Regions from separate parts of the Homo sapiens genome. Here region 2 is linked to region 1. Evidence: fine-mapped expression QTL. Tissue or cell type: fibroblasts. Region 1 holds a variant in brackets; the other region holds the start of a gene. All regions are shown on one strand. Distances are between the middles of the regions.

Region 1 (8,090 bases):
AAAGTAGTCACTTGCAAAGTGTAGGTACAATAATAGTTCTGTCATAAAGATTTGTTGGGAAAGTCATGAAGATCGTGTATCATAAATTGCTTTAATTAATTTTAGATTTCTGCTATGTCGTTTTGTCCTTCTTCTCATTCTTAATGTTCTTTGTGCTGTCTCTTTTTTCTTTGATTAGTCTTTCCCAAGGTTTGTCTAGTGCCTTTTTAAAATCAGTATTTGGGCTTCTTCATTCCTCTAACTTATTTGGGTTTTATTTTAATAATGCCTGCTTTTTCTTTTCTTATTTCCTTTAAAATATTATCATATACTTAGTTTATTAATTTTTGGCTTTTAAGATTCTCTTTGCAGTACTAATTTCTAATGTAGTTGCTCTGTGGTCAGATAATATGGTCTGTGTGATACAGACCAGGGGTCAGCAAACTTCTACTAATGACCAGATAGTAAGTCTTTTAGGCCTTGATCAGCTAGTCAGTTTTGGTGTTGTAGGACAAAAACAGCCATAAACAATAGTAATTGAGTGAACATGGTTGTTTTTCCATAAAACGTTACTTGTAAAAACTGGCAGCAGGCTGAGTTTTGTTTAATGGCTGTAGTTTGCTGACCAACTCCTGACTTAGGTTGCTTGACATTTGTTGGGTTTTCTCTGTAGCCTCTTCCATGGCAATTCTTTTTTAACATTCTACATTTGCCTGAAAAGACTGTATTCTCTGGTTGGAGATAGTCCATTAAGTTGAGCATGCTAATTGTGTTGTGCAAATGTCTTCATCATTGCAAGTTTTTATCCCTTTGACCAGTTACTAAAAGGTGTTTTAAAATGTCCCACTATGATGATGGATTTGTCAAATCTTCTTTGGGAGCCTGTCAGTTTTTGCTTTGTCTATCTGGAGGCATACAGGTTTAGAATTTCTGTATCTTGTTCCTTTTATCCTTATGTAGTACCTTTGTTGTCATTAATAGTGCTTTCTATCTTTATTGCCTACTTTGATAGCAATATAATAATTATAGTTTTCTGTTGATAAGTATTTGAAGTCTTTTGTTCCAATTTTTACTGTTAGCCTCTTTGAGCCCTTATGTTTTGGGAGTGTATCTTTGTATCTACAAGATGTGTATAGCTTTACCACTCTGAAAGTCTATGACTTTTAATTGCAAAAGTTGGTCCTTTTAGATTTATTGGGATGATGATTATTATTATTATTATTTGAGACAGAGTCTTGCTCTGTCATGCAGGTTGGAGTGCAGTGGTGCAATTTCAACTCACTGCAACCTCCGCCTCCCGGGTTCAAGCGATTCTTCTGCCTCAGCCTCCCAAGTAGCTGGGATTACAGGCGCCCACCACCACGCCCAGCTAATTTTTTTTTTTTTTTTTTTTTTTGAGACAGAGTCTTGCTCTGTCACCCAGGCTGGAGTGCAGTGGTGTGATCTCGGCCTACTGCAACCTCCACCTCCCGGGTTCAAGCGATTCTCCTGCCTCAGCCTCCTGAGTAGCTGAGATTACAGGCACCTGCCACCATGCCTGGCTGATTTTTTTGTATTTTTAGTAGAGACGGGGTTTCACTATGTTGGTCAGGCTGGTCTCGAACTCCTGACCTCAAGTGGTCTACCTGCCTTGGCCTCCCAAAGTGCTGGGGTTACAGGCATGAGCCACCATGCCCAGCCTTATTGGGATTATTATATTTAGATATTCCAACTATGATATTTCATGCATTCCATTCTTATTCTTCTCTTTCTGTGCCTTTTCTTCTAATTCCTGCCTTTTCTTGGTCCTATTGTTTTTCTTTTGCTTCTACATTTCATTTCTATATGTTAGTGGTTACGTGAAAATTCTAACATGCACCTTCAACTTAGCAAAGCATTTGGGGAGGTAGAAATCTGAAGTCTTTGTCCCTTAAACCTCCATGAAAGTAAGCATGTGAGTCTGAATTCCTGGGAGGGGGACAATTGTTTCCCTGCCCTGGTCCAGGCCAGACAGACCCGCCAGTCTGTTCCTGGTAGTAAAGCGCATGTGTCTATCTAATGTGCCTTTTGAGGATGTGGCCCTTTTGGGTCTTTGTTTTAAACAATGTCTCAGTTGTATCTCCCTGCCCTGTATAGAAAGGCTTCATCCCCTGTCCTGAGTGTTAAGGACCAAGCCTATATCTGACAAATGTGCTTTTCTTGCCCCCTTCCTTGGACAGGTCTTTGAACCAGGCAGGGTGCATGTGTGTGTGCCTTCAGAGGTCCTCAGGTCAGGAAAGATTAAGAGCCCTATGATGTGTAGGTGGGTGGGGTGCTGTATCCACATGAAAGTCAGGGTAACTGTTAACTTCTTTGGGCCTTTGGTTGACCCTGAGATTGGAGCAGGGCTTTCTAAATGAGATGATGTAGATCAGTCTTTGCCTTCTTCAGGACTGATGAAGCCCATGATGCCCCAGGAGTCCCTCAATGGGACAGGCTGTCGCTCTGAGGATCAGAACTGTGTGCCCCCACTCCAAGAAAGAAAAGTGACCCCCATCGACTCACCCCCTGTGTGGAGCCCAGAGGGCTACATGGCACTGCAGAGCAAGGGCTACCCGCTCCCGCACCCGAAGTCGAGTGACACCTTGGCTATGGACATGCGTGTCAGGTGAGATGAAGCCTGGTCCTGCTGCCTTGCCACTGAAGGAGGACTCCAGGTCCTAATTGAGAGGGCCCTGGGATGAGCTACCATCCTAGGAGACACTGCCCACGGGAGACGTGCTCCTTGAAGGGACTCCTGGTTCCTCTGGGGAAGGAGAGTGTGAGGAGGATTGCTTGAATGCTTTGTCCAAGAGGCTCTTTTCAGATGGTGAGACGTAAGGTGAAGGAGAAGTCCCGGGGTCCTCAAATCCTGGGCACAGGGCAGGCGGGTGGGGGCTTCACAAGGCAGGTGGGGTCCAGAGCATGGGTCTTGGCTCATTTCTGTGGAAGTAAACAGAGTTAGCCCTGCCACCCCCATAGCCCCAGACTCTTCACGGCCTCCCAGGCTCCAGCTTGCTCTTGCTCTTTGACCCGGAGGATTGCCTGGCTCCTCTGTCTCCAGGGGGCACACCGTACCCAGCCTGCGGCCACGACAGTCTTCACTCTCAAGGACTCCAGGGGCCACCGACCAATTCATGGCCTGGCATTTCTGAGACGTGTTTAAAGATAGAACAAATGTTGATGCTTATGTTTTTTTTTGGTTGTTGTTTTTTGTTTTGTTTTTCTAGCTTTCTTTTTAAAAAGTGTTTTAGTTTTTGTTTTTGTTTTTTCTTTTTAAAACTAAGCTCTGTGTTCAGCATGGAAACCAGGAACCAGGCTCCAATCGCATTGACTGATTTTTCTGGTTCCTTTTCAGGAATGAAAGCTCTTTCTCTGCCTCACTCGGAAGGGCAGGGGGCGTAAGTGCTCAGCGCGATCTCTTTGAGGAGAGAGGGGAGGAGTACTTGAGTGCTTTTGACAAGAAGGCCCAAGCAGACTTTGACAGCTGTATCTCTTCTCAAAGAATAGGCCAGGAGCTTTTGTTTCCACCCCAAGAAAATGTTCAGGATGCAGGTGCTCCTGGGGGTCACACCCAAAACCTCAGGTGTTCCCCATTGGAGCCTGACTTTGTCCCAGATGAGAAAAAGCCAGAGTGTGGCAGTTGGGATGTTAGCCACCAGCCAGAGACCGCTGACACAGCCCATGGTGTTGAGCGGGAGACACCCCGGGAGGGGACGGCCTTTAACATCTCCTCCTGGGACAAGAACGGGAGCCCCAACAAACAGCCATCCTCGGAGCCTGAATGGACTCCCGAGCCCCGGAGCTCCAGCAGCCAGCACCCGGAGCAGACGGGCAGGACCCGGAGGTCGGGACCCATCAAGAAACCAGTCCTGAAAGCCCTCAAGGTGGAAGACAAGGAGAAGGAGCTTGAGAAGATTAAGCAGGAGCTAGGGGAGGAGAGTACCCGGCTGGCCAAGGAGAAGGAGCAGAGCCCCACGGCAGAAAAGGATGAGGACGAAGAGAACGATGCCTCTCTGGCCAACTCCTCCACCACCACTTTGGAGGACAAAGGCCCTGGCCATGCCACTTTTGGCCGCGAGGCCACCAAATTTGAAGAGGAGGAGAAACCTGACAAGGCCTGGGAAGCCAGACCCCCACGAGAGTCCAGCGATGTTCCCCCCATGAAGAGAAATAACTGGATCTTTATTGATGAGGAGCAAGCCTTTGGGGTCAGAGGACAGGCCCGGGGCCGGGGCCGTGGTTTCAGAGAGTTCACTTTTCGTGGTCGGCCTGCTGGCGGAAATGGGAGCGGCCTCTGTGGTGGGGGGGTCCTGGGGGCCCGCAGCATCTACTGCAGCAGTCAGCGCAGCGGCCGTGGCCGGGGCCTGCGAGAGTTTGCGCGGCCAGAGGACTGCCCCAGAGCCAAGCCCCGACGGAGAGTTGCCAGTGAGACCCATAGCGAGGGCTCAGAGTATGAAGAACTTCCCAAGCGCCGCCGGCAGAGGGGCTCCGAGAACGGGAATGAAGGCTCGCTCCTGGAGAGGGAGGAGAGCACCTTGAAGAAGGGCGACTGCAGAGATTCTTGGCGGTCCAACAAGGGGTGCTCTGAGGACCACAGCGGTCTAGATGCCAAGAGCCGAGGCCCTCGGGCCTTTGGGCGAGCCCTCCCTCCCCGGCTGAGCAATTGCGGGTATGGACGGAGAACCTTCGTCTCCAAAGAGTCACCCCACTGGCAGAGCAAAAGTCCAGGCAGCTCTTGGCAGGAATATGGCCCTTCCGACACATGCGGATCCCGGCGACCTACAGACAGAGACTATGTCCCAGATTCCTACAGACACCCTGACGCATTTGGTGGCCGGGGCTTTGAGGACAGCCGCG[C/T]GGAGGACAAGAGATCCTTCTTCCAAGATGAACACGTGGCAGATTCTGAAAATGCAGAGAACCGGCCCTTCAGGAGAAGGCGCCCCCCACGCCAAGATAAGCCCCCTCGATTCCGGCGCCTCCGGCAAGAGCGGGAGTCCCTGGGCCTGTGGGGACCCGAGGAGGAGCCCCACCTGCTGGCAGGTCAGTGGCCAGGCAGGCCCAAACTGTGTTCTGGGGACAAGAGTGGCACTGTGGGCCGCAGGTCCCCTGAGCTCTCCTACCAGAACTCCTCCGATCACGCCAATGAGGAGTGGGAGACGGCCTCCGAAAGCAGCGACTTCAGCGAGCGGCGGGAGCGGCGGGAAGGCCCTGGGTCCGAGCCCGACTCCCAGGTGGATGGTGGCCTGTCGGGGGCTAGTTTGGGTGAGAAGAAGGAGCTGGCCAAGAGGAGCTTCTCCAGTCAGAGACCCGTGGTTGACAGACAGAGCCGAAAGCTGGAGCCGGGAGGGTTTGGGGAGAAGCCCGTTAGGCCAGGTGGTGGTGACACCTCCCCTCGCTATGAGAGCCAACAGAATGGGACGCCTTTGAAAGTGAAAAGGTAAAACCAGACACCATCTGGGCCCTTTTTGTTGTTGTGTTCTGTTCTCAGCAGCACTGAGTTCACGCATGCATGCCGATGCCGCCGTGTGTCGGGGCTGGGGGCCTGCCCCCAGGCCGTCTGTGCGCGTCTCCATTGCCTGCCCCCACATTGCCTGTCTGCTTCTCGTGGTGGTGTTATTGTGGCTAGAGCTCCCACCCCCACCCCCACCCCAGTGGTGCTCTTGAGGCCACTGTCCAGCACCTGACCTGAGAGTCCAGTCATGTGTCCCTGGAGCCCCGCCGAGGGGCCGCTGCAGCGAGGAACGTTGCCTGTGCACAGTGCCAGGTGCCGGTCAGTCCACCAGAGTCCTCTGCTCCGGAGTTGCTGCCAGGCGGCGTCCTAGGGGGCATCGCTGGCCTCGTGGCTGCATGGAAGTGGCTCTTCCTAGATGGTTCTGCTTCTCCACTGTGAGGAGACGTGGCCCCACGGTGGGGTTGCCACCTCAGCATGGCAGGAGCCCAGCAAACGCAGAGGGGAGCAGGCTGCACATGGTCTGGCGAGCACCTCTTCCACAGCCAGAGGCATTCGGGTGATGACCTCTGCTCAGGGACCAGGAGAGGGTCCCCTGCACAGTCTGGGTTGACTGACTGCACTTGGCTTGTGCCTCGGACAGGGAGGTGCAGGGGCTGCTGAGGCCTTCCCTGTCCTCAGCATACTGAGGAAGATGGCTTCACACCTCCACTCTCCTTAGAATTCAAGGCAGAGAAACTCCCAGAGAAGGAGCCACAGGGAACACCGACTCTTTCAGGTGGCATCTAATCCAGCTTTCCAGGCGCCAGAGGCTGACCCTTGGCTTCACCTCAGTTTTCTGCCCCAAGGGCCCTCCGGCAGGGCAGTCCTGGAGAGGAGCAGAAATGCTGGCGTCTCCATTCTGAGCATATTCCCCTTGTCTCTCTCCCCCCTACACTCTGAACATAGCATGTGGGAGAGCCCTGGGGAGCCACTTTCCCCAGGAGCAGGCAGAGCCGGTGGGGGCAGCCTTACACGTATGTTTGCACACGGACATGGATGCACTGTGGCCAGCCTGCCGCTCCTCCCCACCCGAGGAGTCAGCTAGAGGAAGTGGGCCTAGATCAGGGTGCCGGGCTTGTGTGCAGGCTGTGTGCACGTGCGGTGTTTTCCCTCCTTCCCCAGCTCTGGTTAACAAGATCCTCTTTCCCTTACAGATCCCCAGACGAGGCCTTGCCTGGAGGTCTTAGTGGCTGCAGCAGTGGGAGTGGCCACTCCCCCTATGCCCTGGAGCGGGCAGCCCATGCCAGTGCTGACCTTCCCGAAGCCTCCAGTAAAAAGGCAGAGAAGGAGGCCAAGTTGGCTGCTCCGAGGGCAGGTGAACAGGGAGAGGCCATGAAACAGTTTGACCTGAACTATGGAAGTAAGTCATCCTCATATCTTCAGGGGAAAGAACTCAGGCAGAACCAGGGGCCATGCAGTCCTCGGGCCTCCCGAGTTTGCCCTTGCACTGAGTACCTTAGCTTTCGGAACAGCTCGGCCAGGCCCTGGGCTGGGTTCTGGGGCTGTAGAGGTGAGCAGAGTAGGTAGGATTCCCACCGAGTGTTGCTCACAGCCCGTTGAATCCCCGTGACACCCTGCAGCTTCCGGGCTTTAAAGAGAGGAAGCCTGGGGCCCAGAGACGTTCGGTGGTGTGTCCGAGGTCACACACAGCTGTAGGAGCAGAGCTGGGGTTTAAGCTCTTTGCGTGTTCTCTCAGTTGTGCCCTTGGGCCTCTTTGGTTTGGGGTAACAATGTGTTAGATCAGAGGCGGCCTGAGAAAAGTGCGGAAGTCCTGTCCAGGTTTCTGTCGAGCCTGATGCTAGATCTCAGGCGCCTGTTGAATTGGGTTGTTCTTGTCTCCTGGTGAGTGGAAAGACTGTTCCTTCTCGTGAAATCTTGGTTCAGGTGCCATCATTGAAAATTGCGGGTCCAGCCCCGGGGAGGAGAGTGAGGTGGGTTCTATGGTGGGCGAAGGCTTCATCGAAGTCCTGACCAAGAAGCAGCGCCGCCTGCTGGAGGAAGAGAGAAGAAAGAAGGAGCAGGCCGTGCAGGTGAGGGGCGGAGGGTGGGGGGGCATGGGGCTGGAGGGCAGGCTGGCAGATGCCCAGGAAACCCAGAGCCAGAGGGTAAGGGAGTTCTCGGTCAAGCTCAAGGTGGCAGAGAGGAAGAAAGGAGTATTTAGCAAGCACACATTGTCTCCCCGTTCCTGCTATTACCAAGGCCCTTCTATCAATGTAGGAATAGGTGGTGGCATCACTGTTATGCAGTGGAAGAAACCGAGTCTTGAAGAGGGTGACTTCTCTAGGGTGATAACAGTGGAAACTTGTCCAAGGCAAGATGCAGACCTCCGTCACCTCCCAGCTTCTCCTTCCTCCCCACTCCTCATTCCTGAGTGGAATGAGATTTGTCTCCCTCAAGTCAAGTGGATCGTGAACGCTATACTAAAATGGAGTCAGGGCTGGACCTGCACACAGATTACAGTCCGTTGGCCTTTCAGGTCTTTCTTGGGGGGTGCTTTGCTTGGCATCGCAGTTCTGCTTGAGGTTTTGGGAGACGAGCGTTCCACACATCTCTGGAGCATTTTCAGGTGGTGTGATTTTTGGTACCTGGGATACTTATCCTGGGGAGAATTTGTCAGTCT
Region 2 (8,099 bases), 55 kb after region 1:
GGGAAGGGGAAGCAGCCTGGAGAACATGGCTGAATCAGACAAAGCTGAGGGAAGAGGGAGGGCAGGGTCTGGGCCGAAGGACGGAACTTGGAACGGTGCGTGCTGCTGGCGTGTGGATTTGGGTCAAGAAGGCGGCAGAAGAGACAAGCTGCAAGAGGCAGACAGGGACCAAGTCCTGGGGACAGCTGTGTCTGCAGTTGGTGGGACCCCATCTCATGAAAGCACGAGCGCAAGGGCGAGGGCTGCTTTCTATTCTAGTCTGATAGTCTGACGGGCTGGAGGAGTCCGGGAGAGCTGACAGGGGTCTTAACCGCCAGCAGGGATGGGCCTGAATACAGTTGGGAAATACCTACGGGGTCCAGGCAGAGGACTGCACAAGCCACTCAACATGAAGGTGAAGGAAAAGGAGGCTCAAGAACGGCTCTGGGTGGGGCTGGGGCCGGGTGCGGTGGCTCACGCCGGTGATCCCAGCACTTTGGGAGGCTGAGGTGGGTGGACTGCTTGAGGCCAGGAGTTTGAGACCAGCCCAGCCAACATGGCAAAACCCCGTCTGTGCAAAAAAAAAAAAAAAAGGAAAAATTAGCCAGGCGTGGTGGTGCGTGCCTGTAGTCTCTGGCTACTCAGGAGCCTGAGGTGGGAGGATCACTTGAGAGTGGAAGGTGGAGGCTGCAGTGAAGCAAGATCTCACCACTGCACTTGGGCCTGGGTGGCAGAGGGAGACCCTGTCTCAAAAAACAAGCAAGCAAACAAACCAACCAAAAACATCTCTGGGGCCTGGGCCCAGAACATAGCAGGTGACAGCACTTCCTCTACTCAGGTCGCTGAGGCAGATTTGATATCCAGAGTTTTACTGCGAATCACCTACTTTTTGCCAAATATCTTTCTGTGAATGAGAGACTAAAACAAGTTAACTTTACTTTTAAAATTATATTTTAGAAATTTCAGACAGCATGAATGCAAAAAAAAACAAAAGTTTTCTTTATATAGCAGCCAATAGGCCAGGCATAGTGGCTCACACCTGTAATCTCAGCACTTTGGGAAGCTGAGGTGGGAGGACCACTAGATCCCAGGAGATGGAGACCAGCCTGGGCAACACAGGGAGACCCCATCTCTACAAAAAATTTAAAAATTAACCGAGCATGGTGGTGCACGCCTGTGGGCCCAGCTACTCGGGTTGCTGAGGTGGAAGGATCGCTTGAGCTTAGGAGGTCAAGACTGCAGTGAGCTGTGATTGCACCACTGTACTCCAGCCTGGGCAACAGAGCAAGACTCTGCCTCATTAAAAATAAAATTTAAAAAAAGGCCAGGCACAGTGGCTCAATCCCAGCATTTTGGGAGGCCAAAGTGGGTGGGTCACTTGAGTCCAGGAGTTCGAGACCAGCCCAGCCAACATGGCAAAACCCCATCTCCACTAAAAATACAAAAATTAGCTGGGTGTGGTGGCGTACGCCTGTAATCCCAGCTACTCGGAAGGGTGAGACAGGAGAATTGCTTAAACTTGGGAGGTGGAGTTTGGAGTGAGCCGAGATCGTGCCATTGCACTCCACCCTAGACGACAAAAAGAGACCCTATCTCAAAAAAAAAAAAAGCAGCAGATAGAACTTACTTGTCCTACATTATCAAAGGCAGGAATCTTGGTTTCAGTTCCTTTGTGCTGTATTTTTACCTTAACAGGCAAAATGTTCCCGTGCAAAACACTCCCATTTGAGTAGAGCCACGAGTCCCACCAAGCCAGAAACACAAGATGGAGAAATGGAGAAAAGACAGGTGGGTGTGCAGCGGGGAGTTCCTGCTCTCTGCGAGCCAGCTGGGATCTGGGCACAGCGCTCACTCCAAGATTTCAGAGCACTGGCCCAGAGCAGCCTGGGGTCACAGACCCTGGAGGAGCAGCTCTGAAGCACCTTCTGAGGGCCAGATCCCGGCCTTGGCAGTGAACAGACTAAAGTGCTCCTGGGCTTCCCCACTCTGCGGGGAATAAGCACCCAGGACGTGTCAGATGATGGTAAGTGCCCCGGAAAAAGGAAGCAGGCAGAGAGGCTGGCGCTGGGTGCAGAGGGTTTTCAGTGTTGAATGGGGACGCTGGGCAAGGGCCTGAGGCAGGGAGGAAGCGGCCAGTGTGAATGTGGGGGAGATATGGGGCTTTTTTAGGCAGAGGGAGGAGCAGGCACAGAGAATGTTTTTACAGCTGAGAACTACTCCCAGGGTATGTGGCCATAATGAGCCAAATTCTTCTCCTTTTTTTCAATCAGATCACTGTCACCCAGCACTAAGCCCTCTCACAGTACTGGGTCCCATGTGTCCTTGTGAAAGGGGAAAATGGGCTCTGAAGCAGCGAGCACAGGTACCGGCAGGCAGAACTCCTCGAAGGCCGGCTTCACGAAGGTGGTGTACTGCGTCAGAATCTGCTCCAGGTCCCTCCCTCGGCGCACGTCCCGGAGAACTGCAGCGGCAAGGGGCAGGCGTGCTTCAGACCTCAGGACCTGCCGCCAGCCTCGGCCAGGCAGGCACGGAGGCCCGCGGCCGCCTTACCTCTTCGAGACAGCCTGACGTCGGAGTCGGTGTCCACGAAGAGGCGCAGGTGGAACATGTCCCGGATCTCCTGGCTGTAGAACACCAAGATGCCCTCAAACAGAACCACGTCCGCAGGGTAGACCACCGTGGTCTCTGGTAACCTGAGGGGCGCACGGGGAAAGGGGCTCTGCTGCAGACACAGGGTCTCCAGGCCACACACACAGTCAGCTTCCATTGCAGGGACACTGACTGTGGGAAGGGGTGGGGGACCCACAGAAACCAACCGGGGGAGGCCTGCCGCCAGGCAGGTCTGTGTGAGCCCGAGGGGACGTCCTAGCTGGCCCCTCTCCTCGGCCCTCCCTAGAACCACCTGCTTACCTTGAGTGTGTCACAAAATCATAGGTCGGCACCTCCACCGTTTTGCCCTCCACGATGTTCTTCAGAGTCCTGTGCATCAAATCATTATCAAAGGCATCTGCAGGGTTGGAGACAAAGGCAAGACAGGCAGATGCCCTCGTGCAGCGGACAGCAGGGAACCCTCTCTGCTCTGGGGTCAGCACAGCTGGGTGCTGGGGACACCGAGAACCCTAGCACAGGTAGACTAGGACTACGGCAGTGTATGTTTGGTAGCAACAGTGCCCTCTGCAGCCCTGCAGACCACAGGATGACCCTGTCCTTGCTGTTCTCGGGCTGTGCCACTGCCCAAGCTCTGTGCCCCTGAGATGCCGGAACACAGGGGTTTTCTGATCAGCTCTTCCTGGGAGGTGGGTAGGCTGGGCCTCTGCTTCTCTCTCTTTCTGGGACTAACTGGTTAGACTGCGGCTTTGCAGGCCTTCTTCCCACAAGTCCTTGGGAAAAGGCTGACCATGCCAGCCAGCCAGGGTGGAATCTTCTAGCAGTGGCAGGTGTCTCCCTGCCGCATCTGCCCGTTTACCTGGCCCGGAGCTTCAAGCCACCAGCACTAGTTTACCTACCGCCTCCCACACTGGCCTCTCTGAGGACTTTGCCCCAAAGCACGGGAGGGCACAGTGGGCAGAGGTGTGTGTGGAGGGCCCTAAAGGCCCCAACGTGGGAAGGGAAGATGGGAGGATTTCTCCAGGATCACAGTTGTGGCAGGGCAGGGCAGGGCTCCCCACAGTGCAACAGGCTTCCTGACTGGCTCCAACCACGCTCCTGGGGGGACACTCAGGGCCCAGAGAACTCAGCAAAGTTCCCCTGACTTCACTGTGCAGCCAACTCCACTGCAGGCTGCGTGGCGAGTTGGGGGAACAGCCCAAGCGGGTCTGCATCCATCCAACCTTGGGCCCAAGCGCAGCTGGTTAGCGGCCGCCCAGAATGGGGTCTGCCCTCCCCACATCGTTGGGCTCGCGATTTACCTGGATGGTCAAAATTGTACTGTCCTTTCAAGGCCTTGGCCTTCTGCTCTGCCGTCAGGACCTTGTAGAACCTGTCCTGGCTCAGGATGACCACCTTCCGCTGCCGCTGTTCCACCTCGTTCTGTCCCAGCAACTCCATGATCTTCTCACACACGGTCGACTGGAGACACAGAAGCGGGATTCCCGCCTGGAACCGCTCGTCCTGTGACAGGCACGGGGCCGGCTTCTGGAGACACTGACCCACCCGCCCCCTGGGGGGTATGCTCGGAAGGCGGGAGGACACCAACAGGTGTGGATGGTCTCAGCGGAAGGGCCGCGGGGGCCCAACGGGGTTAGCACGGACTTGGGGCTCCGAGGAGCCCGGCCGGCGGAGAGGCTGTGGGGGAGCCCCGAGGCCCAGCGCCCCAACCCCTCGCCCGCCCCAGCCCGCCCCGGCCCATCGCGGCCTGCAGCCCCTTCGCTCCCGCGCCCTGCCCCTGCCTGGCAGGGGGCCCCTCGGCCGGGGCTGGGGTCTCCTCTCTGGACCGGGCCGCCCGTAGGCACCGGCGAGAGGCGAGACCCCGGCCCGCTCGGCCCCTTACCTTCCCGCTGGCAGTGCCGCCGCTCACCCCTATCAGGAAGGGCCGCTGGTGCGGACGGTCGGCCTCCGGCGCGGGGCTCTCGCAGTCTTCGCCTCCCGCCGAAGCCATCTCGGCCTCCGCTCCCGCGCATCGGGTCCCCGCGCCCGCCCCTTCCCCAGGCCCGGCGCGCCCGCCCAGCGCCGAGGTCGGAGGCAACCGGAGCGATCACTTCCGGGAGGCGCGCGGGGCACGCCGGGAGTTGTAGTCCACCGGGGGGGGGGGGGCCGCGCATGCGTGAGGGTGCAGGGCCCGAGGCCGGCACACCAGGAGCGCCCGCGTCCCATTGCGCCGAAAGCTGGCTGGCAGGGACTGCTGCGCCCGGGCCTCGAGCCGGCTACAAGGTCTCAGACTCAAGTGGCCCGGAAGGTGCCCGTTCCGCACCCCGAGGCTGGGGCTGCGCCTTCGTCCGAGTGCTTGCCTCTGCCTCGCGCTGCCTCTGCGCCAGTCCCGGGCCCTCCCCCGGCCGCCCCCGGGCCTGGCCCCCTCCAGCCCAGGCTCCTCTTGGCCATCGAGGCCTCCGGACTGTCCGGACGCCTCCCACCCCACCCGCTGCTGGAGCCGTCGGGGCGCCCCGGAACGTGGCGGGGGCTGTCGCCTGATGACTTTAGGCTCGCGCCTACAGCGCGCCAAGGAGGCAGAGGCCCATGTGCCGGGTTCCATCCCTGCCGCCCCCCCGCTCCGTGCCTGGCACAGAGAACGTGACAGGCAAATTCTGATCCATTGAAATTATGGATTTCCAGCCGGGCGCGGTGGCTCACGCCTGTAATCCCAACACTTTTGGAGGCTGAGGCGGGTAGATCACGAGGTCAGGAGATCGAGACCATCCTGGCGAACACGGTGAAACCCCGCCTCTACTAAAAATGCAACAAATCAGCTGGGCGTGGTGGCGGGCGCCTGTAATCCCAGCTACTTGGGAGGCTGAGGCAGGAGAATCGCTTGAACCCGGGAGGTGGAGGTTGCAGTGAGCCGAGATGGTGCCACTGCACTCCAGCCTGGGCCACAGAGCAAGACTCCGTCTCAAAAATAAAAAAGAGAGAGAGATAGCTAAGGCTCGGGGCAGAGCATGCTTTTCATATACAAAACAGACAACCCCGGGCGGACGCGGTGGCTCACACCTGTAATCCCAGCACTTTGGGAGGCCGAGGCGGGTGGATCACGAGGTCAGGAGATCGAGACCATCCTGGCTAACATGGTGAAACCCCGTCTCTACTAAAAATACAAAAAATTAGCCGGGCATGGTGGCGGGCGCCTGTGGTCCCAGCTACTCGGGAGGCTGAGGCAGGAGAATGGTGTGAACCCGGGAGGTGGAGCTTGCAGTGAGCCAAGATCACGCTACTGCACTCCGGCCTGGGGGAAAGAGTGAGACTCTGTCTCAAAAAAAAAAAAAAAAAAAAAAAAGACCCCAAGTCTACAGCCCCAGCTACCTCCTTATCTAATTCTCGCCTTTGGAGGCAAGATTCTCCCTGCCCTAAGTCACCCAGGGCCAGGTATCAGGTGACTAGAGACCACTCTGCAGCCCAGAGCCTGCTAGAATTACTCAAACTAGCCAATTTTAAACTCTTTCCCTGCCCTGCCAGGCCTTTTCCATGGAAACCCCAAGAAAGCCTCAGGCCTGGGCTCTCCCCTCGCCCCTGCTTCTGCCTCCTGACCAAACCTGGGGTTCTCTACTGAGAACCGTGCATGGCATGGGTGCCCCTTCTCTCAGGAAATGCGATCAATCTTGCGATGGCTTTGGCCTCTCCTCATGGTCATTCAGCCGTACCTCTGTAAATTAAGCCCCAGGCACAGAACAGTGCCTAGCAAACAGCCACGCTGCTGGCTTAGATCTGTCCAGGTGTGTGTCCCAAAGGTGGCCATCCCCCAAGCCAACTTTGAATTTGTATCAAGGGAGAGTTAGACACGGTTTCTTGCCATTTCTTCCCCTGTGGTCCAGCCACGTAGCGAAAGGCAGGGAAACTAGCAGAGTCTGACCAGGGGCTGTCCCTGATACCCCTGGCCTGGGTCTCGTGTGCCCTCTCTGGTGACTGGCCACAAGGCATGGGCTGCCAGGGCCAGTCAGGCTATTGCGTGGTTCCGCTCCCAAGGCAAAGGGACGCTTTGGGAAGGAGCCACTCCCTGGGAGCAGGCCCAGCACCCAGGAAGCCCACAGTCCAGTAAACAAGGCCCGGGCCCACACGGCTCAGGCCTCTGGGCCACAGTGGCTCCCCTATGGGACCATCCCAACCACCACCAAGCAGAGGGCCAGCCCCAAACCTCTAGCTGGTCCCCAACTCCCCATATTGTGAAGAAGAGTGACTTTTATGGGTTTTTTTTGTTCGTTTTGAGACGGAATCTTGCTCTGTTGCCCAGGCTGGAGTGCAGTGGCATAATCTTGGCTTACCGCAACCTCCGCCTCCCGAGTTCAAGCAATTATCCTGCCTCAGCCTCCCCGAGTAGCTGGGACTACAGGCACCTGCCACCAGGCCCGACTAATTTTTGTATTTTTAGTATAGAGACAGGGTTTTGCCATGTTGCCCAGGCTGGTCTCGAACTCCTATTCACCTGCCTCAGCCTCCCAAAGTGCTGGGATTACAGGTGTGAGCCTCTGTGCCCAGCCGAAGAGTGTCCTTAAAGAAGCATGAGTCAGCCGGGTGCAGTGGTTCACGCCTGTAATCCCAGCACTCTGGGAGGCCGAGGCAGGCGGATCACTTGAGGTCAGGAGTTCGAGACCAGCCTGGCCAACATGGTGAAACTCCATCTCTACTAAAAATACAAAAATTGGCCGGGCACGGTGGCTCACGCCTGTAATCCCGGCACTCTGGGAGGCTGAGGCAGGCGACTCACGAGGTCAGGAGTTCAAGACTAGCCTGGCCAACATAGTGAAACCCCGTCTCTACTAAAAATACAAAAAATTAGCTGAGCACAGTGGCGGGCGCCTGTAATCCCAGCTACTCGGGAGGCTGAGGCAGGAGAATCGCTTGAACCTGGGAGGCGGAGATTGCAGTGAGCCGAGATCACGCCACTGCACTGCAGCCTGGGCAAAAATAAATAAATAAATAAGTAAATAAATAAGCCGAGCATGTTGGCATGCGCCTGTAATCACAGCTACTCAGGAGGCTGAGGCAGGAGAACTTGAACCCAGGAGGCAGAGGTTGCAATGAGCTGAGATCGTGCCACTGCACTTTTTTTTCTGTCTGCAAAAAAAGAAAAAAATAAAAACTAGCTGAGTGTGGTGGCATAGGCCTGTGGTCCCAGCTACTGGGGAGGCTGAGATGGGAGGATTGCTTGAGCTTGGGAGGCAGAGGTTGCATTGAAGAGAAATCGCGCCGCTGCGCTACAGCCTGGGTAACAGAGCGAGACCCTGTCTCCAAAAAAAAAAAAAAAAACAAAAAAACGTTGTTGCTGAATTGGGGGGTGGGGGTAGGTGGAGAGTTGGGTGGAGGCTTGGAGCCCTCGGAGTTTGGGTTTCCCAGAGCCAGGCAAGGCAGTACTCCTAAGAGTGACCACTGTCTACTCTGGATTCATTCTCTTACCTGCTCTCTGGTGCGGGATGTTGAAAATCGGGGAGGCTGTGCATGTGGGGGAGTGGGGAGTATATAGGAAATCTCTGCAC

Evidence for each region. PIP is the estimated chance that this variant, and not a neighbour inherited with it, causes the effect.
Region 2: it holds the start of UCK1, and the variant in region 1 is fine-mapped to the expression of UCK1 in fibroblasts (GTEx, PIP above 0.99).

Annotation. Positions count from the first base shown.
Region 1 is chr9:131,471,120-131,479,209 of GRCh38, forward strand. It overlaps PRRC2B (proline rich coiled-coil 2B), which reads left to right. Exons shown (of 32, transcript NM_013318.4): 15 at 2,389-2,605; 16 at 3,335-5,416; 17 at 6,625-6,830; 18 at 7,355-7,500. Among named protein-coding and RNA genes, the nearest start is that of SNORD62A, 10 kb to the right of the region's middle. RefSeq lists a silencer at 7,243-7,537. The variant C/T (reference allele first, on the strand shown) is at 4,837.
Region 2 is chr9:131,526,599-131,534,697 of GRCh38, forward strand. UCK1 (uridine-cytidine kinase 1) reads right to left here and starts at 4,665. Exons shown (of 7, transcript NM_031432.5): 1 at 4,469-4,665; 2 at 3,888-4,047; 3 at 2,890-2,986; 4 at 2,530-2,672; 5 at 2,346-2,440. The coding sequence starts at 4,576. RefSeq lists enhancers at 1,917-3,116, 3,822-4,735 and silencers at 4,151-4,200, 4,401-4,760, 4,901-5,070.